Homo sapiens: one gene and its partners. The protein of the gene in region 1 purifies or fractionates together with the protein of each later gene. This does not show direct contact. Each region holds a gene or a part of one and is shown in the gene's direction. Other genes may lie near its edges.

Region 1 (6,916 bases):
CACTGCGCTGCGTTCGTGGGCTCGGGGTTTTCGCTGCTGGTTCCAGCTTTTGGTTGCCCTGCTTGGCTGGTCCCTGCGGGGCCCACGGCTGCGGAAGGACAGGGCTCTGAGGCTGCCACCCCGCAGCCCCTGCGACTAAACAGTGCCGGGCAGCTCCGCCGGGGCCGCTGGCTTCCCAGGCGGAGGAGGGAAGGCCTGGGGGGAAGGGGGAGGGCAATGGAATAGAAACTGGGGAGCGACAAAGCTGAGAAGGCGCAGATCTTGGCGGATCCCGGGAGCTTCCTCCACTGTGTCCTTTCCGCAGTCACAGTATGGGGCTGCGACCGCTTCCTAGCCCCCATGCCCCGGGCATTTGGCTCTTTTACATAAATGCTAGGATTGGTAGCTTTCCAATATTTCTAAATGGAGAGCTATGAGAAGAGGTGATGTGTGTGTGTGTGTGTGTGTGTGTGTGTGTGCGTGTGTGTGTGTAAGGAAATAATGATGGATTTGCAGTCTCTTTCTTTCAACTCCTCTTCATTCATTGGCTAAGTGTCGGTTGCCTAGGAAACCGCGTGCATCTCGGCTGCAGAGCCAGCTATGGGGGCTGCGGGCTGGGTTTTTGGGGTTTTAAGCGGTGAATCCTGGCAAGCAGTGAAGAACCCTAATGCTAAATGTCTAGTAATTTCAATAAATGTGTCAAAAATATATGCTACATTATGAAAACAGTGCTTTAAAAATTTACTACTATATAAAGCCTCTTTTCTATCAGACTTCTTCAAACAATGACTGTGTGTGTAATAGAGAAATGCAAATTCACTTGAGGACATGCCGTTGAAAGTAATCTGAAAATTGTGAAAGCAAATATAATTTTAATAGTTTAAGGGATATCTTGCTCACCTCAGTCACGCAATAGATTACGTATAAAACAAATGTTGAATTGTATTTTATGCAGCAATATTTCTACAATTGTCTCTGGAAGGGAAAATTTTTAAATGTTAGTACATCATCAAGACTAACATTAAGAGATCATGAAATATGTTGCCCCGAAATCTTCGTGCCTGATATACGATGACCTAGATTGAGACGCATTGCATATAATGAATAGACAGAAATGCTGGGGACCCAACTGAAAACGACTTTTTTTTTCTTTGAAAGCCGGGTACCAGTCTCTTTATGCGAGCTACATGGATTAAGAATGATTTTTTTGTTTAAGGGTTATCAGATAAACTGAAAGACTTCAGGGAAAGGTGTGGCTGTTGTCAACATTTTAACACAAAATCGGCTCCTTGTGAAAATAAAAATGTGCAGCATCACAATTCCAGTGGGGGTGGGGGTGGGGGTGCGATGTAGACCGGTTAACAAGACTGGCTGCCCGGAAGGGGCAGGGGTGTGGGGACAATTCGAGCAAAATGCTTGAAAGGAAAGCAGATCTTGGGCCAAAAGTGTCCCCAAGGGCACTCTGGGCTTTCAGAAGGATGATTTCCAGCCTCATCCTATCCCAAACCAACCCCTTTAAAAGAAACCTGAGAGGAAAGGGTCTTTTCATCTATCTATATGATCTTGAACACGCGTTTTCACCCGGGCACTGAATGGAGATTTGGCTCGGAAACAGAAGCTGAGAAATGAATTGGTTAGATGAAGGAGGCAGGCGGCCAGCTCAAGTTACTCAGCATGGAGCTGAGCGGCCCCCAACCCCACCCCCCAGCGCTGAGCATCAGGGTTGCTCCTGGGAGCTCGCAGCGAGGGGGTGACCGCTCCGAGTGTGTCTACACTCGCCGCGCGGGTGCCGCCCTAGCTCTGTTCCTTCCGGCGCAGCTTGGTCCCACCAGAGCCGCCACCTCGAGGCTGACACCTGCCACAGCCCTTTTGGCCGAGATGCGGTCACTTTCCCTGAGGTCTGGTGTGCCCAAAAGACGAGATTCCAGTCCGAGCCCTGTCCTCAACTTGCTGTATGACCTTGGGAATTGCTAGCCCTCGACGTTTCGGCATCTGCAGGATCTGGATTAGAAACTCGGAGGTCAGGCCCCGAGACCTTGGTACCGGGAGAGCAGGGCATGTGGACAGACCCTCCGCTGCTCTCTGCCTCTCGGTAGACCCCACCCTCACCCGGGCACGCCGGCCGGGTCTGGAATACCGGCCGGCGAGCTCCAGTCTGGGCGCCCTGGATGTTTGGGGGCGCCTGGGCTTTTGTTCTCGCTACTTCTCTTTGTACATTGGAATCGACTTGAACCCCCCACCCTCCACCCCACAGCGGGAAAGGGAGGCGATGACAGCTTGCTGATAGTTCTGGGAGGGTCTCGCTCAACAGCTGCAGGCTGAGCTCCGCCGCGTGCGCCCGGGTCATTCGGCCTTTCTCGCCAGGGGATGAAAGAGGTCACGTCACCTCGCCAACGGCCCTTCCGAAGTGTGGGGCGGCGCGCTTCAGTCATCGAATTGCAGGGAACAGGTTGTGCAGTGAACGTTTCTGACACCCTTTCCCCTCCCGCCCTCAAACGCACGCAGGATTAGTCTCTCTCTCTCTCTCTTTCTCTCTCTCTCTCACACACACACACACACACGCGCGCGCGAAAAGTAACAAAGAGACCAGTTCCTGCCTCAGTACCTAGAGACTGCGGATCTGAAGGGAGGGTCTGTGCTCCAAGTCTGTGCACGCGCTCGTGCGAGTGCGCGTGGGTCTTGGGTCGTCTCGCGCGCGCTGGGCTGCAGTTTTTAGTCGTATTCCCCACCCTTCAACCGCAGCACGAAGCCTCGGACCTCCAGGTCGCCGCGATGGAAGATAAGAAAGTTTGTTACTCGGGCTTGGGCCACCCTTGGAACCCACCCTCTTACTTGACAATAGATGAACTGAATCCGAGGGCGGGGTGGGGGGGTGGGGCGCCTGTCGTGTGGTTTTAAATACTGGGTTACACAGCGTATCCCACGTTTCTGAGAGCCCTTTGTTCCGCCGACAGCCCCGCCCCCGGGACCCCACCCTCTTTCTGCCCTCCGGACGGTCAGTGCAGCGCCACCGGCCACTCCCACTCCATCACTAGCGAGCAACAAAAGTCAACCCCCGGGGCAGAGGGCTCCTGGGTACCAGCAGGGGCGTTATGCACTCCCGGAGAGGGTCGGGCAGGGCTGAGGGGCTCCGAGGTCGCTTCACCCCTAGATGCTGCGGCGCAGTGAGAGGAGCTACCAGCCCAAGACAGACAAAGGAGAAAGCAGGCCCACGCTGGGGCGGGGGCGGAGGCCGCGCTGGTGTTCATGGGCCGCAGGTGTCCCGGTTGCCATCAAGCACGACTTCCTTCTGGGGCCACCTGTCCTCCCCCAGGCCTCTGTGAGACGGAGCGCCGCCTGGGCAGTCGCTGGCCTCCAGGGTTGAGGAAAAAGACGGTGGTCTCACCAGGGGCAGTTGGCTGGAGGGACTCTGGCCAGTGGCCGAGTAGGAGCCGCAGTCCGAGGTGGCGGAGCAGCCTGTGCCACCTCAGCCCTCCCACCTGCCGGCACTGGAGCACCTGACGGCTTCTCCACATGCTCCAGTCCTCCATCGTTCCCATCCGGTGCCAGCTCTGCCCCCACCCCGGTCAGGACGCGCTGGTGGCCCTCGCCTCGCCGCCCTCTCACCCTCCTTTTCTTCACTGTTCCCCCATATCCCCATACCCAGACCCCCACCACAGCCCCAGACAATGCGCACGCCCCCACCATACTCCCGGTAGCCCCCACCCCTCTCCCGGTCGGCACGCCCGCTCTGATTGGCCGCGGGCCGGTGGTCCAGCCCCCCGGACGGTCCCTAGGGCTCGGAGCATTACGTCAGCCGGGCCTGGAGAGCGCCAGCGCGAAGGGGACTGGGGGGCTCGGGCTGGGGGCGCGGCCTGTGCCGGCCGCCCCACCCTCCTTGCATAAAAGCCGGAGCCCGCGGGGCCGGCGCTCTCAGCCCGTCGGTTCCCGAGCGCCTTCCCGGTGACCCCGCAGTGGGTGTGTGAGGGGAGGACGGACAGACCCAGACGCCGCCGGACCAGGAGGACGCTGACGAGGCACCATGCGTGAGATCGTGCACATCCAGGCGGGCCAGTGCGGCAACCAGATCGGCGCCAAGGTGGGCGCGCCGCAGCGGAGGGGGTCCAATGGGGGCGCGAACCTGGGCCGAGAGCCCCTCGGGGTCCCCAGGCGCGGTCCTGGGAAGGCCTGGGGATCGCCAAATGCAGACCTTCCTGGCCGCTTTGTGCCGCCGAGTGTGGCCTGGGCTAGGAGGTGACTTTCGCGGACGGAGGGGGCACCTCTCTTTCTTTCTGCTGTAACTCATTTGGAGTCCCCGTCACCCCCTCGGCCTCCCTCCGCGCTGGCTGCTTGGCAGGCACGCGTGCCTGGAGAAGACGAGGGTGTGTCCGCGAGGCTGTGCGCGGCGCTCCGCGCGAGGGGCTGGGACACCAGGAGGATTAATTGTACTCGCTTGAACCGGAGTCGAGCTGCCGGGGGAGGGGAGGAGAGCGATTGTCTTGCGGTCTCAGGACGTGCTTTGAATCTAAAACCGCGGTCCTTTAGCTCCTTTGCGTTCCTCTTTCCCCGCCCACCCGCTCCTGGCGGGCTGCAGTCCCTGTGCCCTCGCCTCCTGCCGCAGCCTGGGGCTGCGACCAGTGCGCCAAGCTCCGCCACTGCCCGGCTTTGGCTGGTCCTTACCCCCTCGACCCCTACCTCCCCCCGCGAGCGGCAGCTGTTTGCCTGGGAAACGCCCAGTTTCAACTTTCTGAACCTGCAAAATACAAGCCCCGCGGCTGTGCCCGGGTCACGACGCCCTTTAAAGCTTCAAGCTCCTGAAATGTTGGGTTGTCGGAACTGAGTCGGGGACATTTCATTGTGAGCCTTGGCGTTTCTGGGGGCATCGTTCATGGCTAAATGCAGCCTTTCTGTCTCAGTTTTGGGAGGTCATCAGTGATGAGCATGGGATTGACCCCACTGGCAGTTACCATGGAGACAGTGATTTGCAGCTGGAGAGAATCAATGTTTACTACAATGAAGCCACTGGTAATCACCCTTGCCCCACCCCCACTCCCTTCAGTTTTTCCACCTTCTCCCCTTTCCCTTGCGTGGGACCCCAGGGGTGTGGCCCTGGGAGAGGGTGGACTATTCAGTTTAGGATCCCCGCTCTTTCCCTGCAGTATTTCATTGGGCTTCCTTATGCCAACAGAGCCCTTTGAGAACCTGATGGTGGGTCTCCCTTTGTTTGGGGCAACATCTGCATGATGGCAGCAGGCGCCAAGCCCTTCTCTGCAGAGGTCCTTGCCTGAGGGTCTAAGTCACTGTTGTTCCTTGCAGGTAACAAATATGTTCCTCGGGCCATCCTCGTGGATCTGGAGCCAGGCACGATGGATTCGGTTAGGTCTGGACCATTCGGCCAGATCTTCAGACCAGACAATTTCGTGTTTGGTGAGTGCCTGGTGTGGCTGAGAGCATGAGGGATTCATTTTACGCTGGGCAGTGGAGGCTGAAGAGGTGTGATTGCCAGAGGGAAAGCATGAAGAACATCCGCGGTGTGCCAACTTAGCTTTAATATAGTGTAAAATTGTTTGCCTTTCAGCTGCTAAGAGCTTGGTGTCCTGGCCTTCCTTATTTATAATTATATTCATGAACAAATATTTTAACGTTTGGCCATTTTGGTGATAATCTGAAATAGTCTTATCTGAGCATTGACTCACTGATCTATATTGAGGGGTTTGAGGTAAGGTATTTAGTACAATCACCGGTGACTTAAGATTTCTCTTTCCCTCTGGCAGGCCAGAGTGGAGCCGGGAATAACTGGGCCAAGGGCCACTACACAGAGGGAGCCGAGCTGGTCGACTCGGTCCTGGATGTGGTGAGGAAGGAGTCAGAGAGCTGTGACTGTCTCCAGGGCTTCCAGCTGACCCACTCTCTGGGGGGCGGCACGGGGTCCGGGATGGGCACCCTGCTCATCAGCAAGATCCGGGAAGAGTACCCAGACCGCATCATGAACACCTTCAGCGTCATGCCCTCACCCAAGGTGTCAGACACGGTGGTGGAGCCCTACAACGCCACCCTCTCGGTCCACCAGCTGGTGGAAAACACAGATGAAACCTACTGCATTGACAACGAGGCCCTGTATGACATCTGCTTCCGCACCCTGAAGCTGACCACCCCCACCTACGGGGACCTCAACCACCTGGTGTCGGCCACCATGAGCGGGGTCACCACCTGCCTGCGCTTCCCGGGCCAGCTGAACGCAGACCTGCGCAAGCTGGCGGTGAACATGGTGCCCTTCCCTCGCCTGCACTTCTTCATGCCCGGCTTCGCGCCCCTGACCAGCCGGGGCAGCCAGCAGTACCGGGCGCTCACGGTGCCCGAGCTCACCCAGCAGATGTTCGACTCCAAGAACATGATGGCCGCCTGCGACCCGCGCCACGGCCGCTACCTGACGGTGGCTGCCATCTTCCGGGGCCGCATGTCCATGAAGGAGGTGGACGAGCAGATGCTCAACGTGCAGAACAAGAACAGCAGCTACTTCGTGGAGTGGATCCCCAACAACGTGAAGACGGCCGTGTGCGACATCCCGCCCCGCGGCCTGAAGATGTCGGCCACCTTCATCGGCAACAGCACGGCCATCCAGGAGCTGTTCAAGCGCATCTCCGAGCAGTTCACGGCCATGTTCCGGCGCAAGGCCTTCCTGCACTGGTACACGGGCGAGGGCATGGACGAGATGGAGTTCACCGAGGCCGAGAGCAACATGAACGACCTGGTGTCCGAGTACCAGCAGTACCAGGACGCCACGGCCGACGAACAAGGGGAGTTCGAGGAGGAGGAGGGCGAGGACGAGGCGTAGATGCCCCCGCGAGACGGGTTAGGGAAAGCGGAGGAGGAAAGCGAGGGGGTGGGGGGCTTCCCGGGACGATAACCTGGCAGTGGAAGGAAAGAAGCATGGTCTACTTTAGGTGTGCGCTGGGTC
Region 2 (5,825 bases), on another chromosome or scaffold:
GCTCTGTCATAAATCCTACGAAGTCATGTACAACATCTGGACACAGTTTGCTCCTGCAGAAATCTATTGTTTTGGGCTTGATGGCTTTCATAAGCTTTATCTATAACAACTGTGGCATCTTCAGTAATGTAATCCTTTCATATTTTCATCATGTTCTCTTTGTTGGGGTTCTCTTTCATAATGTTGACTTTTTTTTTTTTTTTTTTGGAGACAGAGTCTCGCTCTGTTGCCAGGCTGGAGTGCAGTGGTGTGATCTTGGCTCACTGCACCCTCCGCCTCCTGGTTCAAGCGATTCTCCTGCCTCAGCCTCCCGAGTAGCTGGGACTACAGGTGCGCACCACCATGCCCAGCTAATTTTTGTATTTTTAGGAAAGACGGGTTTTCACCATGTTGGCCAGGATGGTCTCAATCTCTTGACCTCGTGATCCGCCCGCCTTGGCCTCCCAAAGTGCTGGGATTACAGGCATGAGCCACCGTGCCCAGCCGACGGTTCTTTACATGAAGTACCATGTGTAATAAGCCTTACAGGTCCTTCTCTGACTGTGTGGTCTAGAGTATTTGAATGTCTTCAGTGTTGAACTCATGGGGCTCTGGGTAGCCAGGGGCATTGTCCAATATCAGAAGCACTTTAAAAGGCAGTCCCTTTCTGGAAAAGTACTTCCTGACTTCAAGGACAAAGCATCGATGGAAGTAATCCAGAAAAAGTATTCTTGTTGTCCAGGCCTGGTTGTACACTACAAGACATAAACTTGACTGCCCAAGGGACAGGCTAACTCCTTTGCACAAAATCCTGGTGCTCCCTTCTCTTTCTTACTAATAAATGTCATTTGTGGCATAATCTTCCTGATTAGGTCGCTTTCATATACATTAAAATTGTATTTAGGCAGATACCATTTCTCCTCAATGATTTCTCTCTCTCTCTCTCTCTCTTTTTTTTTTTTTCTTTTTTTTTTTGAGACAGAATCTTACTCTGTCACCCAGGCTGGAGTGCAGTGGTGAAATCTCAGCTCGCTGCAACCTCTGCTTCCTGGGTTCAAGTGATTCTCCTGCCTCAGGCTCCCAAGTAGCTGGGAGTACAGGCGTGTGCCATGACACCTGGCTAATTTTTTCTTGTATTTTTAGTAGAGGCGGGGTTTCACCAGGCTGGTCTCGAACTCCTGACCTCAAGTCATCCACCCACCTCGGCCTTCCAAAGTGTTAGGATTACAGGCGTAAGCCACCAAGCCCAGCCCTCAATCATTTTCTTAATGGTATCTGGGAACATGTCTGCTGTTTCTTGGTCAGCAGAAGCTGTTTCCTGCTATCTTGACATTTTAAAAGCCAAACAAACCTCTTTCTAAAATTATCAAACCATCCTTTGCTGGCATTAAATTCTCCAGCTTTAGATCTTTCACCTTCCTTTTCTGATGAGGTATCATAATGATTTCACATTTTTTCAAATCATATTAGTGTATATAGGTATGCTGTTCTTACCTATATAAAACCTGCATTTTCAATATGAGATTAATAGGTATATTTCTCAAAAAGCACAGGGTTTTCACAGCTGCTGGCATAGCTGCAGTGCTGCTGTAACTGCAATGATGGCTTCAGTTTTTTTTGTTGTTGTTTTTTGGGGTTTTTGTGTTTGTTTTTTTTTAGATAGGGTCCCACTCTGTTATCTAGGCTGGAGTGCAGTGGCATGGTCACAGCTCACTGCATCCTTGATATCATGGTTTCAAGGGATCCCTCACCTCACCCTCCTGAGTAGCTGGAGCTACAGGTATGCATCACTGTGCCCAGCTAGTTTTTTATTTTTTGTAGAGACAGAGTCTTGTTATGTTGCCCGGGCTGGTCTCAAACTTCTGGGCTCAAGCAATCCTTTTGCCTGGCCTCCCAAAGTACTGGGATTACAAGTGTGAGCCACTGTGCCTGGCCCCCTGAAAATCTTTTTCACCGGACAGGCAAGACCTCTTAAGTGATGTTTCCAACAATCCACTTTTGCCCTTATCCCTAGCTACAGACCCTAGAGACTAGGGAAATGGGTACAAGTATCTGAAATCATCTGATTCTCCCCACCTCTTCCGTCCATTAGAGCCTGTGGGGCCCGGATAGTCAGCCGACCAGAGGAACTGAGAGAAGATGATGTTGGAACAGGAGCAGGCCTGTTGGAAATCAAGAAAATTGGAGATGAATACTTTACTTTCATCACTGACTGCAAAGACCCCAAGGCCTGCACCATTCTCCTCCGGGGGGCTAGCAAAGAGATTCTCTCGGTGAGTCAGCCTTGGATGTATGACCAGATGAAGTAGATCACTGAACTTCTTGAGAGTTTCCCAAAGGGCCTAAAATAATTCTGTGGTCCATTTATAGCTATTTAATTTGGACCTATAGCCACAAATTCCTTTTCTGCTTCCTTTTTTTAATTAAATAATTTAAAATTTTAAAAATTGTAGTAAGCATAAAATTTACCATCTTAATCATTTTAATTGTACAGTTCAGTAATGTTAAGTATATTCATGTTATTGTGCAAGAGATCTTCAGAACTTTTTCATCTTGCAGAACTGAGACTCTGTACCCATCAAACAAGATATCTCATCTCCTACTCCCTAGCAACAACTGTTTTCTTATTTTTTACGTTGAAGTTATAAATATTACTTTTTTTTCCTCATTGAGGCTAAGTAACTTTCCCAAAGGCACATAGCTAGTAAGTAGGAGAGTGTACAACACCATGCAACCTCCTAAAAGATACAACTAGGAAGGGGTGGAATAGGTTATGGCTCTTATCTATCAAGATACATGCTGTTTATTTCCATATAACTGGCAAGGGATGAAATAGGTTATTGCTCTTAATCTAGCATAATGGACAAAGACCTAACTTTATGGTTGGGTGACACCCCCAAACCCTTTGCAGATACCACTCCCCGCCATCCTATATTATAGTCGTGTGTTATATATTCTCAGGTAAATAATCTGCCCTGCCCAGTAGGGGTTCCAAGGACCTTTTCTAGTTGCCCTCCTTGGTGGTTTACTAACTTTGGCAGTTAGGAAGTCCTTTTGGTGCCTCCGATTTTATGAGTCATCAAGCTTTGGCTTCATACTGTCTGTTTGCTTCTCCAAGGAAGTAGAACGCAACCTCCAGGATGCCATGCAAGTGTGTCGCAATGTTCTCCTGGACCCTCAGCTGGTGCCAGGGGGTGGGGCCTCCGAGATGGCTGTGGCCCATGCCTTGACAGAAAAATCCAAGGCCATGACTGGTGTGGAACAATGGCCATACAGGGCTGTTGCCCAGGCCCTAGAGGTCATTCCTCGTACCCTGATCCAGAACTGTGGGGCCAGCACCATCCGTCTACTTACCTCCCTTCGGGTGAGTTCCTCTCCAAGCTTTTCTCTTGATGGAGCAGGGAAAGCTGTGTTTGCCCTGAGGGGAAGATTCTTATCTGGCTATCCAAATTCTCTTTATAGTCTATTCCTTGAAATCTTTCTCTCCTTTTAGTCTTTGACTTGTTTGCTGTCATTGCCATTTTTCCCTGTCCCTTCCATACTGGTCCATTGTTTTTTACTTCATTTCTTACCTGATGTTTCCTGTTAACTTATTTTCCCCTTTACTTCTTGCTTCAATTGCAGGCCAAGCACACCCAGGAGAACTGTGAGACCTGGGGTGTAAATGGTGAGACGGGTACTTTGGTGGACATGAAGGAACTGGGCATATGGGAGCCATTGGCTGTGAAGCTGCAGACTTATAAGACAGCAGTGGAGGTAAGGCACCCTAAGATATGTACACGCTGTTTTAATTAATTTATTTATTTATCTATTTATTTATTTTTGAGACGCAGTCTCAGTCACCCAGGCTGGAGTGCAGTGGTGTGATCTCGGCTCACTGCAATCTCCGCCTCCCGGGTTCAAGCAATTCTTGTGCCTCAACCTCCCAAGTAGCTGGGGCTACAGGCATGCACCACCACTCCCAGCTAATTTTTGTATTTTTTAGTAGAGATAGGGTTTCACTATGTTGTTCAGGCTGGTCTCGAACTCCTGACCTCAGATGATCTACCCACCTTGGCCTCCCAAAGTGCTGGAGTTACAGGCATGAGCCACCATGCCCAGCCTGGTCTAGTCTTGAAGGGAGGGGTAAAGAAGGCAGAATATTCCTCTAAGGTATTCCAAGGCATTCTATCTCTTTAATTATCTTTAGCTCGTACTAAAAGCAAGATAATATAGCACAATCTGTATCACTTGCTTAGGGAGAAGTGCATTTTTTTTTTTTTTTTTTTTTTTTTTTGAAACAGACTATCGCTCCGTTGCCCAGGCTGGAGTGCAGTGGCATGGTCTCCGCTCACTGCAGCCTCCACCTCCCAGGTTCAAGTGATTCTCCTGCCTCAGCCTCCCAAGTAGCTGGGATTACAGGTGCCTGCCACCACACCCGGCTAATTTTTTCTATTTTTAGTAGAGACGGGGTTTTACCATGTTGGCCGGGCTGGTCTCGAACTCCTGACCTTGTGATCCACCTGCCTTGACCAACCAAAGTGCTAGGATTACAGGTGTGAGCCACCACACCTGGCTGAGAACTGCATTTTACATTCAGGACTGAAAAGGCCGGGCATGGTGGGTCACGCCTGTAATCCCAGCACTTTGGGAGGCTAAGGCAGGTGGATCACGTGAGGTCAGGAGTTCAAGACCAGCCTGACCAACATGAGGAAACCCCATCTCTACTAAAAATACAAAATTAGCCAGGCATGGTGGTGCAGGCCTGTAATCCCAGCTGCTTGGGAGGCTGAGGTAGTAGAATCGCTTGAACCCGGGAGGCGGAGGTTGCAGTGAACCGACATCATGCTACTGCACTCTAGCCTGGGTGATAAGAGGGAAACTGCGTCTCAAAAAAAAATAAAAGACTGAAAAGGTAGATTTCAGACAAAATGGCAGTTCCATAGTAGCATCTAGGTGATAGATCTAAAGGAAAGAAAAGTGTCCTTTCCTTCTCTGCTGACCTCTTTGCATCTGTGGTTTTTCTCCTAGACGGCAGTTCTGCTACTGCGAATTGATGACATCGTTTCAGGCCACAAAAAGAAAGGCGATGACCAGAGCCGGCAAGGCGGGGCTCCTGATGCTGGCCAGGAGTGAGTGCTAGGCAAGGCTACTTCAATGCACAGAACCAGCAGAGTCTCCCCTTTTCCTGAGCCAGAGTGCCAGGAACACTGTGGACGTCTTTGTTCAGAAGGGATCAGGTTGGGGGGCAGCCCCCAGTCCCTTTCTGTCCCAGCTCAGTTTTCCAAAAGACACTGACATGTAATTCTTCTCTATTGTAAGGTTTCCATTTAGTTTGCTTCCGATGATTAAATCTAAGTCATTTGAGAAAGTTGTTATGTGTTTTTCAACCTTGGGCCATCTCTCTTATCTCCTGGCAAATAGGTGGAGGCAGAAAACCTTACTGGGGAGGGAAAGGAGACCTGGAATGAGGGCATTTAGACTCTTTTGCCTTCTTGAGGGAGTATTCTTCAGACTTCTCAGTAAATTTTGGTTGGAAAGACCCTTTTGGAGTTCAAAGGATAATACTGTAAAGCTTACAAAGCACCATTTTGCATTCACTGCCCAAAGAACAAGAGGAACCTGTCTAAAGCATGGGTGTTCCCCATATGTGGTTGTATGTAGAGGAACACCCAGTACATCCTAGGGCTCTGGCATGTGTCCTAAAGGACATATAACTTTTTTTTTTTTTTTGGTGTAGTTTTCAGAATTCTCCCTTTACCATGAGTTATTTTTCTCTGCCCTCTTCCAATGTTTTTACAATTCCAGTCTTCATTTTGGCTTGCTGACCTTTTCTCATGCCAGTATCCTGTCACAGTCAGACCTCT
Region 3 (7,036 bases), on another chromosome or scaffold:
TCTTTCTCATTTAAGCAGAAAATGTGTGCATTGTTTTCTTCAGAGTATTTGAAATCTGTAAAGTGAGCTAGAAATCACAAGCTTTTTTTTTTTTTTTTCTTTGAGCCACACCTTGCTCTGTGACCCAGGTTGGAGTGCAGTGGCATGATCACAGCTCACTGCAGACTCAAACTCCTGGGGCTCAAGCAGTCCTACCTCAGTCTCTCAAGTAGCTGGGACTACAGGTGCGTGCTATCATGCCCAGCTCACAAACTTCTTTTAATGCTGGGAAAAAAAAAAAACCTGAAGTGTTTTAAAAAGTGAACAGTAGCTATCCTTTATAAGACAATTTATGATTTGGGAAATAACTCCATATTTTCTTCGAGGCCTCATTTTGAAGTAGGTGGTGTTACCATCCTTCCTTTGTGCCTGAGAAAACGGAGGCTCGAAGAGATTTGGCAACTTTATCAGGCCACAGAACTAGGAAGGGCTTGGATACCAGTCTAAATCTTTGTGTGTGTATGTGTGTGTGTGTGTGTGTGTGTGTGTGAGAGAGTAATAGCTTTATTGAAATATTTACATACCATAAAAATGTGTTTTTAAAGTGTACCATTAAGTGCGTGTAGTATATTCACAGAATTGTCCAGTTGTTACCACTCTCTGATTTTAGAACCTTTGCATTACTCCAGAAGAAACCCTAGTACCTACTAGCAGTCACTCCATGTTCCCCCATCGCCCTCACCCCTGGCAACCATTAATCTACTTTCTGTCTTTATAGATTCTGGGCATTTTATTTAAATGGAATTATAGAATGTTTGGTATTTTGTTCCTGGCTTCTTTCACTTAGCATATGTTTTAAGGTTCATCCATGTTGTAGCCTGTGTCATCATGCCATTCCTTTTTATGGCCAAATTATATTCCCTTGTGGAGAGATACCACACTGTTTAAATCTGTTACTTGTTGATGGGTTATTTGGGTTATTTCCACTTTTTGACTCTTATCAATAATGCTACTATGGGCACTCACATGCACATTTTTGTGTGGACCTATGTTTTCATTTCTCTTGGGCAGATATCTAGGAGCAGAATTGCTAGGTCATATGGTAACTCTGGGCTTAACATTTTTAGGAACCAGTCTTAACTTTTTGAAACCTAAATATTAAGCTTGTTTTATTATACATTTTTGATAAAAGAATAAGTAATTAAGGAAATGGATGAAAGAGGGAAAGAAGTGGGAGCAAGTAACAAAATGTTGCTCATGCATTTCCATGAGTCCTTTGGATCCTTTGATCAATCACAGCTCACCAAAACGAGTCAGTGCACAACTGCACGTGGTTGCCACAGGTTATAAGAATCTCAGTGCCTGAACGGACCTGGCAAGTAATCTCATCTCATGGTTTACTTTCTTAAGCCTTTGAGCTGTTTCTTCAAAGTAAAGGTTACCCAGGAACCCAATGGTAAAGCAGATAGATACAGAGCTGGCATAGCTGACAGGGAGTGGGGAGAGGATGGTGCTTTGGCCCTCCTCTCCTTCCCCCACCCCTCCAGCTTGAAATCTCTGCCCTGTGGGGGAAGCTGGAAAGGCTGTTCAAAGCTAGAAAGGCTGTTCAACCTGTGCATGAGCATTTTCAAGAGACTGGAAAGTAACTACCTCTCCAGGCAATCCATTTTTTCTCCAGACAGTTCAGACTGTCAGTTCCTACAAGCAGTGAAAAATCAGCCGAAGTTGTGTTCCTTGGGTCCGTAGAGAATAGGTTTAATATCTTATCCATATATTAGGTCATCACATGTTTGAAGACAATGATTATAGTTCTTTCTCACATCTTCTAGCTCTTAAGACGTAATTTTAGACCCTTAATCATCCTGGTTGCTTCATCTACACCTGTTTCCTTTTGTCTGTATTTCTTTCTTAACTTGATACAACTGAATGTGGTATTCCAGGCATGTTTTCTACACAAAGAAGATTAGAATTGGATATGTCACCTCCCTTATTCCAAAGTCTATACTTTTTTTTTTTTTTTTTCGAGACAGAGTCTCACTCTGTCGCCCAGGCTGGAGTGCAGTGGTGCAATCTTGCCTCACTAAAACCTCCGCCCCCTAGGTTCAAGCAGTTCTCCTGCCTCAGCCTCCAGAGTAGCTGGAATTACAGGCGTGTGCCACCAGCCTGGCTAATTTTTGTATTTTTAGTAGAAATGGGGTTTCACCATGTTGGCCAGGCTGGTCTCGAAGTCATGACCTCAGGTGATCTACCCTTCTCAGCCTCCCAAAGTGCTAGGATTATAGGCATGAGCCACTGTACCTGGCCTATACTTCTAATAATGCAGCCTAAGGTTATATAGACTCCATTTCTTGTCACATCACATTATTACCTTTTACTGATTTTCAAGTAAAATTCTTGTGTACTTTACATGTACTATGGCTAAATCTTTTCTTAAATTTAATTACCTTTTTTTTTTGAGGGTAAGTTTCCTCGAACAGGCAGAGCCCTATCAGATTACAACACCATTATAATCTGTGTTGTAATGCTATAAATAATCCCAGCACTTACTAAGATATTTCAGCATTATAGTAACATTGAAATTGACCATTGCCTTACAGGGTTGTGATTGTGGTTAATAGCCTTTTTTCTTCTTGCCTTGGAAGGTGTCATGAGAGAATTATCAGATGCCCTCTAAGGCCTGACTGGAGCGTATCTGCCATGTCCCAGATCTGGCCTGGCTTCTTCTCCTGCAGGTGCTACTTGTTAGTAACTACAGCGGGTCGAGTCCATGGGACCTGCCCAGTCAAATTTTGAAATCACTATAATAATCCTTTGAGCGACTGAAGTTTATTTTTTCTAGTTTTGCAATGGAATGTTGTTTTAATTTCTAAACATTTATATTTTGGAAATTAACAATAATTTATTTAATAATCTTAAACATCTTTTGACATCTCTAATACTGATGACATTCTCTTAACTATGATTACAGCAGGATTTTCAAGTTGACACCTCGATGGTTATAAACAAGTAGTTGGATTTAAAAGGAACACCTGTAAGGAAATTATCCAAACTCAACGCTCCGAAGTATTTTCAGGCCTCTTTTGCATTCTCATGCAGTGACAGAAGACTGACTGAGGCATTCTGTGATAGCAAAATCGGAGGAAAACGCTTTCATGGAAAAGTGCAAAGCAAAAGCACCCACGCTAAGCGAGAATTTCTAATTAGTATACTTGGTGCTCCAGCCAGGAAGGAACTTATAGCCAAACCACAACCATTTATCACATTATAAACAAACCCACGCATTTTGGTGGAAAAAAATCACAAAACTGTGCTTAAAAAGTAACCATTAATTGGTTATTGTCCATTTCTGGGATAGTGTAAACCTTTTCACATATTCTCTTAAAAAACATTTTAGTTGAGTGGAGGTTGGATAAGAGAGGAGAAATAACATCTTTGTTTCTAGTGTTACAGCTTGTTCATGCTATAAAACTAGTAGCGTGAAAACCTTCATCATGGATAACATTGAAAACGGAACATGAAAGCATTGCTCTCTCTAGTAAGACAGTCTCTCCAAGGACTTAAAATCAGTGGCATTTTGTACTCCTTACAAAAATTTCTTTCAGGAACAACTATTCATCCTTAAAATTTTATCAAGCTCATTAATAGAGGGTTTCTAGTATTAGCAAAATTTTTAAACACCTTCAGAAGCATTACTAATTACAAACAAAAAGTGTGCTGTAAACTCTAAAAGCTGTATAATTATTATTGATACCACCCGTCACCCCCAGCTTCATGTTTTTCTCACTAGACGTTTGGCACATAGATTTCATTTCTGCTGAAGGCTGCACATTCATTTTAATCTGGCCCAGGACTGGGGGTGTGCGAAGGTGTCAGCAGGAGCAAGTGCATACTCTCTTTGGTTTACTTTTTAAGAAATACCTCTTCAGAAGAGTTTTTCTTTCTTTAAAGGACTTGTTTTTTTTTTAAGTTTAATTAATTATTTATTTTTTATTTAGAGTCAGGGTCTCACTCTGTTGCCCAGGTTGGAGTGCAGTGGTGTGATCATGGCTCACTGACCTCGAACCCTTGGACTCTAGCAATCCTCACACCTCAGCCTCCCGAGTAGCTGGGACTATAGGCATGCGCCACCACACCTGGCTAAATTTTAAAAAAATTTTTTAGAGATGCAGTCTTTCTTTGTTGCTCAGGCTGGTCTTGAACTCTCCTCAAGAGATCCTCCTGCCTTGGCTTCTCAAAATGCTGAGATTAAGCATGAGCCCCTGCACCCAGCTAATTTTTAAGATTCAGTTTAGTTAGATACATTTCCATTTTTGTTTACTCTAAGGTTCTACCTTTACTGGCAAATACTGTTGGCGGGGAAAACCATTTTTTGCAGAGTACTCTCAGTTGTGTGTTAAAATGCAGTCATTTATTTATTCTGCCAGCTTTCTGGAAAATATTTAAACTCTCTATCTTTAATAAACCATCCCCACAGTGTAGGGGCAGGTTCGACCTATAGACTTGGGTGATGCCTGAGGGCACTTACTCCAAGCCCAGGGCCTGCCCGAGGTAGGGAGTCTTACAGGAGACCTTCCCACCTGCCGAGGCCCTGCTGTCAGAGGGAGGGGAAGCAGAGGTGACTGGCCCCCTGAGGCCAGCGGCCAGATCCATGCATTTATCATGGTGTGGTCCAGGACTGGTGGTACCCTTCACTCTGCAAAGCCCCTGTAAGGGAGACCCACCGTCCTGGACTGCAGATTCTTCCCACAAATAACCTTTGAAGGACAATGGGCAGCCCACAGTTAAAGATAACAAGGATAGAAATGGTTAGGCGAATATTCATGGAGAGACTTGAGTCCGTTTGGCAAATCGGGCTGATTTCCAGTGAATACCTACAGTGGGCGTAGGACAATTAAACATGTCAAAAATGTAGTCTCCCCTGTAAACATTAGATTCTCCTAGTAATTGGCCGGGCACGGTGGCTCATGCCTGTAATCCCAGCACTTTGGGAGGCCGAGGTGGGCGGATCATGAGGTCAGGAGATCGAGACCATCCTGGCTAACACGGTGAAACCCCGTCTCTACTAAAAATACCAAAAATTAGCCGGGCGTGGTGGCGGGCGCCTGTAGTCCCAGCTACTCGGGAGGCTGAGGCAGGAGAATGGCGTGAACCCGGGAGGCAGAGCTTGCAGTGAGCCAAGATCGTGCCACTGCACTCCAGCCTGGGCCACAGAGCGAGACTCCGTCTCAAAAAAAAAAAAAAGAAATTCTCCTAGTAATCATTTTAGACTCTTCTACCCACTGCCCCATATCTCAGTTGGCTCAGTGGATTCTGCACCCCAAACGTCTCATCATCCATCCCTTCCTCCCTGGCTCGGGCCCTCATCAGTTCTCATCTAGGCTAGGGTTGGGTTTGGTTTTGGCAGCAGACCTAAAGCAGTCTTCCTAACTCTAGTCTTCCATCCGTTCCTTTAAACAAGCACTCAAGTACTCACAGCGTCCATTATTACACTGTTTTAGGGGTTCCAGCGAAATGCGAGGATGACATGGTCCTTAGCCTTAGGAAGCCTAATTTGTTTCTCAGGAGCTAAACATCCAGTGTTATTTTCACACTCACTTCATGACAACAGTGATAGGTTGTTCTAAGAAGTGTAAGGAACAATGGTAGGGTATTGCAGCACTGGGGGGCATGTATCAGGGCGGGCTTCCTAAGAGAGGCATCCGTGAGAGCGTCTTTCTAGTCTGCTCACTGCAGGCGGGTAGGTGGGAGTGGGGAGAGCCATTCGGGCCAGGGAAGCGTCTAAGAAGCCCTGGGTGGGAAAGAACCTTTAGAGAACTGAAAGAAGGTTGCCTGTGGTGAAAGGGAAAGGAGTAGCGTGGCTTGCAGTAGGACTGGGAGCGTGTTTTGGGGACATGGTAAGGAGTTTGGTCTTCTTCCTAGGAGCAGTGGGAATACAGGGGAGAATTTTGAGGCAAGGGAGCGACTTGTTCACATTTTTTGTTTTAAAAGATCACTCTGCTTCCAGGGGGAGGGCAGGTGGGAAGGGCAGTCCAGGGTGGAGGTAGGAGGGTAGAGGTGGGGGGCCATGGCAGTAACCCAGGGAGAGGCAATGGTGATTCACCCTGGGCGGGGTGTTGGGAGCAAGACGCAGGAGATACTTAGTGGGTAACATCCTGTATTTACATTAAGAGTGGGGAGAGGGCAGAATCAAGGCTGACGCCCAGGTCTCTGATGCCTGCAACTGGAGATGGCAGGACAGGCCAGGGGGCCTGTGCAGAGATGGCAGTCCAGGCCACGGGGGAGGTGGTTTGGGCTTGTGGGGTAGGAGGACATATGGGATACAAGCTGAGGTGCTGAGCAGGCTGTCGGTGAAGGTCTGGAGCCCGGGAGATGGCTGGGCTGGACATAACATTTGCGAGCCATCAGCATCCAGATAGTAATGGGATCCATGGGCACCGATGAGCTCACCCAGGGGAAATTAGACATTTCGAATGTGCCTCCTGCAAGACAGATCCAGGCAAAATGGCCTCCTGTTTAAAAGCTGACAGCAGCCCTCCCTCCCACTTTAGCACCCAGGGCCCCACTTATCTTCATCCCTGAGTGCCCCCAGGTGCCCTTCCTTCGTCGGTGGCTATGTGGTATTTAGTATAAACCTCTGTCATCATGATTATCCCAGAGGCCTGTCACGGAGGTTTATTTTCAGTCTCCCATTAGATATAAGCTCCTCTGGGCAGACTTTCCTGGGATCGTCTCTGTGTCTTTTGCACCTCAGCAGTGCCTGGCACGTGGTGAGTTTCCTGGTGAAAGGTGGTTGAATAGATTCAGGGTCCATCTTATTTATCTTATAGCACCTCCTCAAACACACGCACCAGGCGCCACCAGGCACCATGCCACACATGTGACAGGTGCATGCCAAATAAAGCACGCCCACCGCTTCCCTGTGTGCTTGAAACAACGTGTATCAATGTGTATAGTATATACCACATGTGCATATAACTGTATGTATACCTGCGTATCTACGTGCATTATACACACATGCACACATGTGACATTGAACTCTACCCTTCAGCAAAGAACT
Region 4 (7,407 bases), on another chromosome or scaffold:
ACCAGGCCTGGCCTTCCTATTGATTTCTAATTGAATTTGATTATACTTTGCATGCTTAAATTCTTCTCAATTTATTGAGATCTGTTTGCATGGAGAGAGAAATCCTACTCTATTCCTCTTCTTATAGGCCACTAATCCTATTGGATTAATAATTCACCCTTACGATTTTATTTAACCCTAATTACCTCCTAGAGGCCCTTCCTCCAAATACAGGTATATTAGGGGTTAGGGCTTCAACGTAGGAACGGGGGTGGGCACCATTGAGTCAATAGCAGGATATGGGATTTATCTATTTTTCCTGCAGTTCTTTTACGTATTTTGAAGCTGTGTTATTAGAGGTGTAGGCATTTAGGATTATTATGTTCATTAGTCGACTCCCTTTGTGAAATGACTATATTTGATTTTCTTTGCTTTGAAATCTACTTTGTCTTGTATTAATGTAGCCACTCTAGCTTTCTTTTTTTTTTTCTTTTTTTTTTTGAGATAGAGTTTCACTCTTGTTGCCCAGGCTGGAGTGCAATGGCGCGATCTCGGCTCACTGCACCCTTTGCCTGTGGGTTCAAGCGATTCTCCTACGTCAGCCTCCCAAGTAGCTGGGACTACAGGCCCACGCCACCATGCCCGGCTAATTTTGTATTTTTAGTAGAGATGGAGTTTCCTTATGTTGCCTAGACTGGTCTTTAACTCCTGGGCTCAAGGGATCTGCCCACCTCAGCCTCCCAAAGTGCTGGGAATTGCAGGCGTGAGCCACTGTGCCTGGCCTCCAGCTTTCTTTTGACTAGTGTTAGCATGGTATATCTTTTCTATCCTTTCAAGCTTTTTTTTTTTTTAGTAGATAATGTCTTTTTGCACATAACTTATTGTTGGATTTGCTTTATTTTTCCAACCTGCCAATCTGTCATTTACCAAGAGTATTTATTTTTGACATTCGTATTTAATGTGCTTAGTCATATAGTTTTGAGTCTGTCATCTTGCAATTTGTTTTTTGTTTCATCTGCCCTTTGTTCTCTCTTTACCTGCCTTCCTCTGGGTTGAGTATTTTATGTTTCTGTCTTACCTCCTTTGTTGGCTTACTAGGTATCTTTGCTGGGTTTTGAATGGTCCCTCTAGGGTTTAGGCAGCACTTGGCTCCGAATTGCAACAGTGGCCTCTTTTCCCTTGTTGTCCAGGTGAATGAGTGGCAGGATGACTGGCCGACCTTTTTCGCCCGGCACCGGCTCCAGGCGCAGCTGGACCTCATTGAGAAGGACTATGCTGACCGAGAGGCACGAGAACTCTGGTCCCGGCTACAGGTGGGCACGGCAGTGACTTCTCTGGGAAAGAGCTGGTCCTCTCATGATCCCGCCGCATTTGTGCGGGTTCATCTGTAAAACGGAGCTGGAGCAGGGAACACTGAGTCCTGGAGCACACATCAGGGAGGAAGGGGGGCAGGGGCGGGGGTTCCCCCAAAAGGGAGTCCGAAAGGAGTGAGGAGTGAAGACACACTTGGCTCCTCGTGCCCCTCTCCACTGCTAGGTCACCAGGTATTTAGCCTCAGACTTTCCTCATGTGAAACACAGGTGCTTGTAAATGGTGGTGTTTACCATGATTACTGTTCTTACTATCAGTAACACTTGTCCACTCCATCGTGTTCCTCTCCCATGGGAAGATGTGGGTACCAGATGATCCAGAATGACTGATTTCAAAACATAACTCTCGGCCGGGCACAGTGGTTCACGCCTGTAATCGCAGCATTTGGGAGGCCTAGGTGGGCAGATCACTTGAGGTCAGGAGTTTGAGACCAGCCTGGCCAACATGGTGAAACCCTGTCTGTACTAAAAATGCAAAAATTAACCGTGCATGGTGGTGCATGCCTGTAATCCCAGCTACTCAGGAGGCTGAGGCAGGAGAATCACTTGAACCCGGGAGGCGGAGGCTGCAGTGAGGGGAGATTGCACCATTGCACTCCAGCCTGGACGACAGAGTGAGATCCTGTATCAAAAAGAAAAAAAATCAAAATATAACTCTCAAAATGTTAAAAAAGAATGTGCATGTCAATCCAGAGTGAGTATACATCAAAGAGACTTGAACTCATTAATGAAGAAACTAGGCTGGGCACGGTGGCTCAAGCCTGTAATCCTAGCACTTTGGGAGGCCGAGGTGGATAGATTTTACCTGAGGTCAGGATTTCAAGACCAGACTGGCCAATATGGTGAAACCCCATCTCTACTAAAAATACAAAAATTAGCCGGGTGTAGTGGCGGGTGCCTGTAATCCCAGCTACTCAGTAGGCTGAGGCAGGAGAATCACTTGAATCCGGGAGGCGGAGGTTGCAGTGAGCCGAGATGGCGCCACTGCACTCCAGCCTGGGTGACAGAGCAAGATTCCCTCTCAAAGAAAAAAACAACAAAACCAAACAAAACCTGCAGACATATATGTGTAGCGAAATAAAAGTGGCCAGAGTTTGCTAAGGTAGCGCAACACTGGTTCCTATTCTGTGGGTCGATTAAAACTATAACCTCAGAGGTTCTCCACTGTGTGGGGATTCTAGACCTAAATTAGGAGGAAATCCTAAGTTAGACAAAGCTAGACTCCCCTGAAGTCAGGTGGCCCCTATTTCTGGGCTTGGCAGGCAGTGCTGGGGCTGGACACCGAAGCAGATCGCGAGTGGGCTTTGCCTTATTTCCAAGAACGAGGTGATGAGACCGGGGCTCCCAGAGGCCAGCGATAACTGCAGCCGTTGCTCTCGTAGGTGAAGATCCCGGATCTGTTTTGTGGCCTAGAGATTGTCCCCGCGTTGCTCCACGGGGATCTCTGGTCGGGAAACGTGGCTGAGGACGACGTGGGGCCCATTATTTACGACCCGGCTTCCTTCTATGGCCATTCCGAGTTTGAACTGGCAATCGCCTTGATGTTTGGGGGGTTCCCCAGATCCTTCTTCACCGCCTACCACCGGAAGATCCCCAAGGCTCCGGGCTTCGACCAGCGGCTGCTGCTCTACCAGCTGTTTAACTACCTGAACCACTGGAACCACTTCGGGCGGGAGTACAGGAGCCCTTCCTTGGGCACCATGCGAAGGCTGCTCAAGTAGCGGCCCCTGCCCTCCCTTCCCCTGTCCCCGTCCCCGTCTCCGTCTCCCCGTCCCTGTCCCCCCGTCCCCCGTCCCTGTGCCCCCGTCCCTGTCCCCCTGTTCCCGTCTCCCCGTCCCTCCGTCTCCATCCCCCCGTCCCCCCATCCTCCTGTCCCCGTCCCCCCGTCCCCGTCCCTCCATCCCTGTCCCCCGTCCCCCTGTCCCCCTGTCCACATACCAATCCCCCTGTCCCCGACCCCCCATCCCCGTCCCCCATCTCCGTCCCCGTCCCCCCTGCCCCGTCCCCGTCTCCGTTCCCCCGTCCCCATCCTCCATCCCCGTCTCCCATCGCCGTCCCCCCGTCCCCGTCCCCCGTCCCCGTCCCCCCTGTCCCTGTCCCCCTTCCCCCGACCCCTCCCAGATCCTGGGGACCAATAAAGCCCGCAGCGGGTCTCGGCTGGCGTCCTGCGCCTCGTTCCTCCGCTCGTGGGGCTGCTTTCAGGGCCAGACGCACGGCGAGCTGTGCACGGACGTTTTTGCGGCGATTCAGGGGAAACGCACGCGGACCCGGTAGCCAAGGCCAAAGTCGGCGCAGCGCCCACCGCGGCCTCCGGGCCCCGCTCCCGCTCCCGCTCTGGGGCGCGCCACCACTCGGCGCGGGGCCCGTGTGATCCGCGCGGGTCCCAGCGTGGCGCGAATAAGTGTCAGGGCGGTTGGCTCTGAGGGGTGGGTCCCGGGGCTCGCCTCGCGCCCCCGACTGCGTGCTCAGGCCCCGCCCCTCCCCGTCCACGCATGCTGAGGCTCCGCCCCGCTCCGCGGTCCCCCGGTCCCACCCGCCCCCGCCCCGCCCCCGCCCCGCCCCCCGGCGTGTTGTGGCTCCGCCCCGCTGTCTCCGGCCCCACCGCAAGCCCTGCCCCTCCCACCCACGCGTGCCCGGGCCCCGCCCCCGTTGCGCGCAGCCCCGCCCCCTATCGCGTGCTCAAGCCCCGCCCTGGCGGCCCCCGGCCCCATCCCGAAGCCCCGCCCCCCCGCACACCGCCTGCTCAGGCTCCGCCCCGCTGTCCTCCGGCGGCGGCCTCACCCCGCAGCCCGGCCCACCGCGTCTCAGGCCCCACCTCCTGTCCTGCCCCGCCCACCGCGTGCTCAGGCCCCGCTGAGCGGTCCCGGCTCCGCTCGCGCCCTGTGGGGTCCACGGCGCGCTCTTCCAGAGCCTTTGGGACCCGTGCCCGCTCGCGTCCTCAAGTGCACGCGCCGTCCCGCGCGCGGTATTTTGGCGGCCGACGCGTTCCGTAGCGAGGCCGGCGAGTGGGGTCGGAGGTCGCGGGGCGGGGCCAGCGTCGGTTGCCGCCTTAGCGGGCGCCTCCTTTTCATCCCTCATCCTTCATCCCTGGCTTTCGCGCTCTAGCGGAGTGGGATCTGCGAACACGTGAGGCGGGGGCGCGGTCCCCAGGCTGCCGAGATGGCCCTGAGCGACGAACCGGCCGCGGGCGGCCCCGAGGAGGAGGCGGAGGACGAGACACTGGCCTTTGGCGCGGCGCTGGAAGCGTTCGGCGAGAGCGCGGAGACCCGGGCGCTGCTGGGCCGCCTGCGGGAGGTGCACGGCGGCGGCGCGGAGCGCGAGGTGGCCCTGGAGCGGTTCCGCGGTGCGTGGGCGGCGCCGCGTGCCCGCTTCCTCCCCCGGCCCGGGTTCGGCGCGCTGAGTGCACTTTACCGGGCGGGGACCGCAGCCCGGCGGCGCCGGCCGCTCTGCGAGGGCTGCCGGTGCGCGGTCCCGCGGGCCGTGGTGGGGCGCGGCCTTCCTAGGCGGGAGAGGGCCACCCCGGCGCGGCGTTAGGTGCACGGGGCAGACGCGCGCCTCCCTTGGGGGGACCGTGGCCCGCGGAGCGCCTGCTCTCGCACGGGGTGAAGCCTCTGCGGCCTCCCCGGGAGGCGGGGTGCAGAAGCCCTCCGTCCCCCGTCTCCGTCACTGGAGGAGGTCCCTGGGCTGGGGAGACTCGGGCCAGACCCCTCCGGACAGCTGGTCAGCCCTGCAGTGTGGACTCCCAGGCTTGCCTCCACCGAGCGCGGTTTCTGTGAATGTTGTGTGGACAGGGAGATAGGGAATGAGAGAGGGGGACGCAGGGAACAAACCTGCTGCAAACAAAGCGCGCCTCGGGTGGGGAGGGCAGCAGCCTGTCCGTTCCGTGGACGCCGTGGACAGAGCGGGCTGGCCGGGTCCGTGCCTCTGCAGGCGGGGTGGGGTGTAGGTACCCCTGTGGAGGCCATTCGATGAGTCTAAATTCTCCGAGTTCAGACCCACCTTTACCGCTGTCTATAATGGGTTATTTCCAAACAAGTCCTTAGGAGCTCATAGCTAAGTAGTTACATGGGGTTTTGTAATTCAGTAAAATCATCTTTGTAGACCCTTTGAGTAAGAAGAACTTTTGCATTATTTGGCCTTCCTCATTTTAGAATGACAGCGCTTTGATTTTAGGAGTCAGGCAGGGTGGGGGGCCTTGTGGGAGGAGTGCGGGTTCGGCGTCAGATCCTCCTGCCTGTGAATTCTGGCCCTGTCGCTTGGACCTGATACTTGATTGCCTGTTTCTTCGGGTGTAAGCTGGGGCGGATAACGATGCCTCTCGTGCAGAACTGTTCTGAGGGTGAGGGACCCTCATCCAGGGACCAGTGAAGCCAGATTTTTTGTTCCTGGTGTAACAGCCCAATGGCTTCTTCCTTTTTTTTTTTTTTTTTTTTTTGATACGAAGTCTTGCTCTGTTGCCCAGGCTGGAGTGCAGTGCAGTGGTGCGATCTTGGCTCACTGCAACCTCAACCTCTCAGGTTCAAGCTATTCTCCTGTCTTAGCCTCCCGAGTAGCTGGGGCTACAGGCGCGCGCCACCACGCCCGGCTAATTTTGTATTTTTAGTAGAGGGGGTTTCACCATGTTGGTCAGGCTGGTCTCAAACTCCTGACCTCAAGTGGTCGCCCGACTCAGCCTCCCAAAGTGTTGAGATTACAGGTGTGAGCCACTGCGCTCGGCCCCAGTGGGTTCTTTCTGCGGGCTGCCCAGATAGAGTTGATTTGTCAGGGCAGGGGAGTTGCCATGGAGAAGATTTAGTTCACGCAGAGCCGGTTGAAAGGGAGACTAGACTAGAGGTTTTTTTTTTTTTTTTTGAGGCGGAGTCTCACTTTGTCCCCCAGGGTGGAGTGCAGTGATGAGATCTCAGCTCACTGCAACCTCCACAACCTCCACCTCCCAGGTTCAAGTGATTCTCCTGCCTCAGCCTCCCGAGTAGCTGGGACTACAGGTGCGCGCCACCACGCCCACCTAATTTTTCGTATTATTAGTAGTGACGGGTTTCATCGTGTTAGCCAGGATGGTCTCGATCTCCTGACCTCGTGATCCACCCGCCTCAGCCTCCCAAAGTGAGCCACCACGCCCGGCTGGAGTTTTATTATTACTCAGATCAGTCTCCCTGAGAATTTGAGGGCCAGGGTTTTTTAGAGGTAATCTGGGGGAAAGGGTGGGGGTGGCTGATTGGTTAGGGGTATACAATCATAGGGGAGTCGGAAATGATCCTCCGTGATGTGCTGAATCGCGTCTGCGTGGGGCCCCAGGAGCAGTGGGCGGGTCCAGGTGGAGCTATCATGGGTCCGTGGATCCTAGTGTAGGTGTCAGACATGGAAACAATCTGAAAAGATATCTTTAAAGGCCAGTCTCAGGTTCTGCAATAGTGACATGGTCTGCAGGAGTAACTGGGGAACTCGCATGTCTTGTGATCTCAAGAATAATGGCTGGCAATTAGGTTACGCCTTAGCGGAATTCAGGCTCCTCTCCTCCTCCTAGCCTGGTGGCCTCTCATTAACTTTACAAAGGCAGTTGAGTTTTGGGGAAGGGCTCTTAGCATTTAAACTATAAATTAAATGTCTCCCAGAGGTAGCTTGGCAGCTTGAAGACTAAAGGCATGAGGGGGTTGCCTGGATCAGATCTGCCCCATTGCCATAATTTCCTCACAGATCACTTTTGCAAAGGCAGTTTTGCTGGGAAGCAGTGGGTGTGTTCAGATGTGGAGGTGGGAGCTGCCGGATTGGACAGAAGCAGTTTCAGCTGCTGAGAGGAGGAGAAAGCGGTGGTTCAGGGTCTGGGAGGTTGTGAAGAGCTGGCAGCTGTGTGGAAGGGAGCAGTGCCTGGATATGTCAACCAAAAAGTATCTGAGACGAGTCTCAATCAGTTTAGAAGGTTAAGGGTGTGCCCGTGAGGCAGCCTCAGGAGGTCACATGTCCCCAAGGAAGTCGGGCTACAGCTTAGTTTTACACGTTTTAGGGAGACGTGAGACATCAATCAATACCTGTAAGATGTACATTGGTCTCGTCAGGGAAG

What was found.
Region 2: the proteins of TUBB2B (region 1) and CCT3 purify together in Homo sapiens (affinity purification with mass spectrometry; 3 studies listed by BioGRID and IntAct, with this or other methods). This does not show direct contact.
Region 3: the proteins of TUBB2B (region 1) and EML1 purify together in Homo sapiens (affinity purification with mass spectrometry; 3 studies listed by BioGRID and IntAct, with this or other methods). This does not show direct contact.
Region 4: the proteins of TUBB2B (region 1) and TBCD purify together in Homo sapiens (affinity purification with mass spectrometry; 3 studies listed by BioGRID and IntAct, with this or other methods). This does not show direct contact.

Annotation. Positions count from the first base shown.
Region 1 is NC_000006.12:3,224,628-3,231,543, reverse strand, and holds the start of TUBB2B (tubulin beta-2B chain), read left to right. Parts: upstream 1-3,890; 5' UTR 3,891-4,000; coding exon 4,001-4,057; intron 4,058-4,874; coding exon 4,875-4,983; intron 4,984-5,274; coding exon 5,275-5,385; intron 5,386-5,732; coding exon 5,733-6,793; 3' UTR 6,794-6,916. UniProt on the Homo sapiens protein: Tubulin is the major constituent of microtubules, a cylinder consisting of laterally associated linear protofilaments composed of alpha- and beta-tubulin heterodimers.
Region 2 is NC_000001.11:156,308,468-156,314,292, reverse strand, and holds the end of CCT3 (T-complex protein 1 subunit gamma), read left to right. Parts: intron 1-2,071; coding exon 2,072-2,252; intron 2,253-3,097; coding exon 3,098-3,343; intron 3,344-3,603; coding exon 3,604-3,735; intron 3,736-4,989; coding exon 4,990-5,094; 3' UTR 5,095-5,325; downstream 5,326-5,825. UniProt on the Homo sapiens protein: Component of the chaperonin-containing T-complex (TRiC), a molecular chaperone complex that assists the folding of actin, tubulin and other proteins upon ATP hydrolysis.
Region 3 is NC_000014.9:99,796,409-99,803,444, forward strand, and holds part of EML1 (echinoderm microtubule-associated protein-like 1), read left to right. Parts: intron 1-7,036. UniProt on the Homo sapiens protein: Modulates the assembly and organization of the microtubule cytoskeleton, and probably plays a role in regulating the orientation of the mitotic spindle and the orientation of the plane of cell division.
Region 4 is NC_000017.11:82,747,686-82,755,092, forward strand, and holds the start of TBCD (tubulin-specific chaperone D), read left to right. Parts: upstream 1-4,379; 5' UTR 4,380-4,508; coding exon 4,509-4,692; intron 4,693-4,806; exon of another isoform or gene 4,807-5,069; intron 5,070-7,407. Other genes in the region: FN3K (fructosamine-3-kinase), read left to right, coding at 1,170-1,292, 2,732-3,070.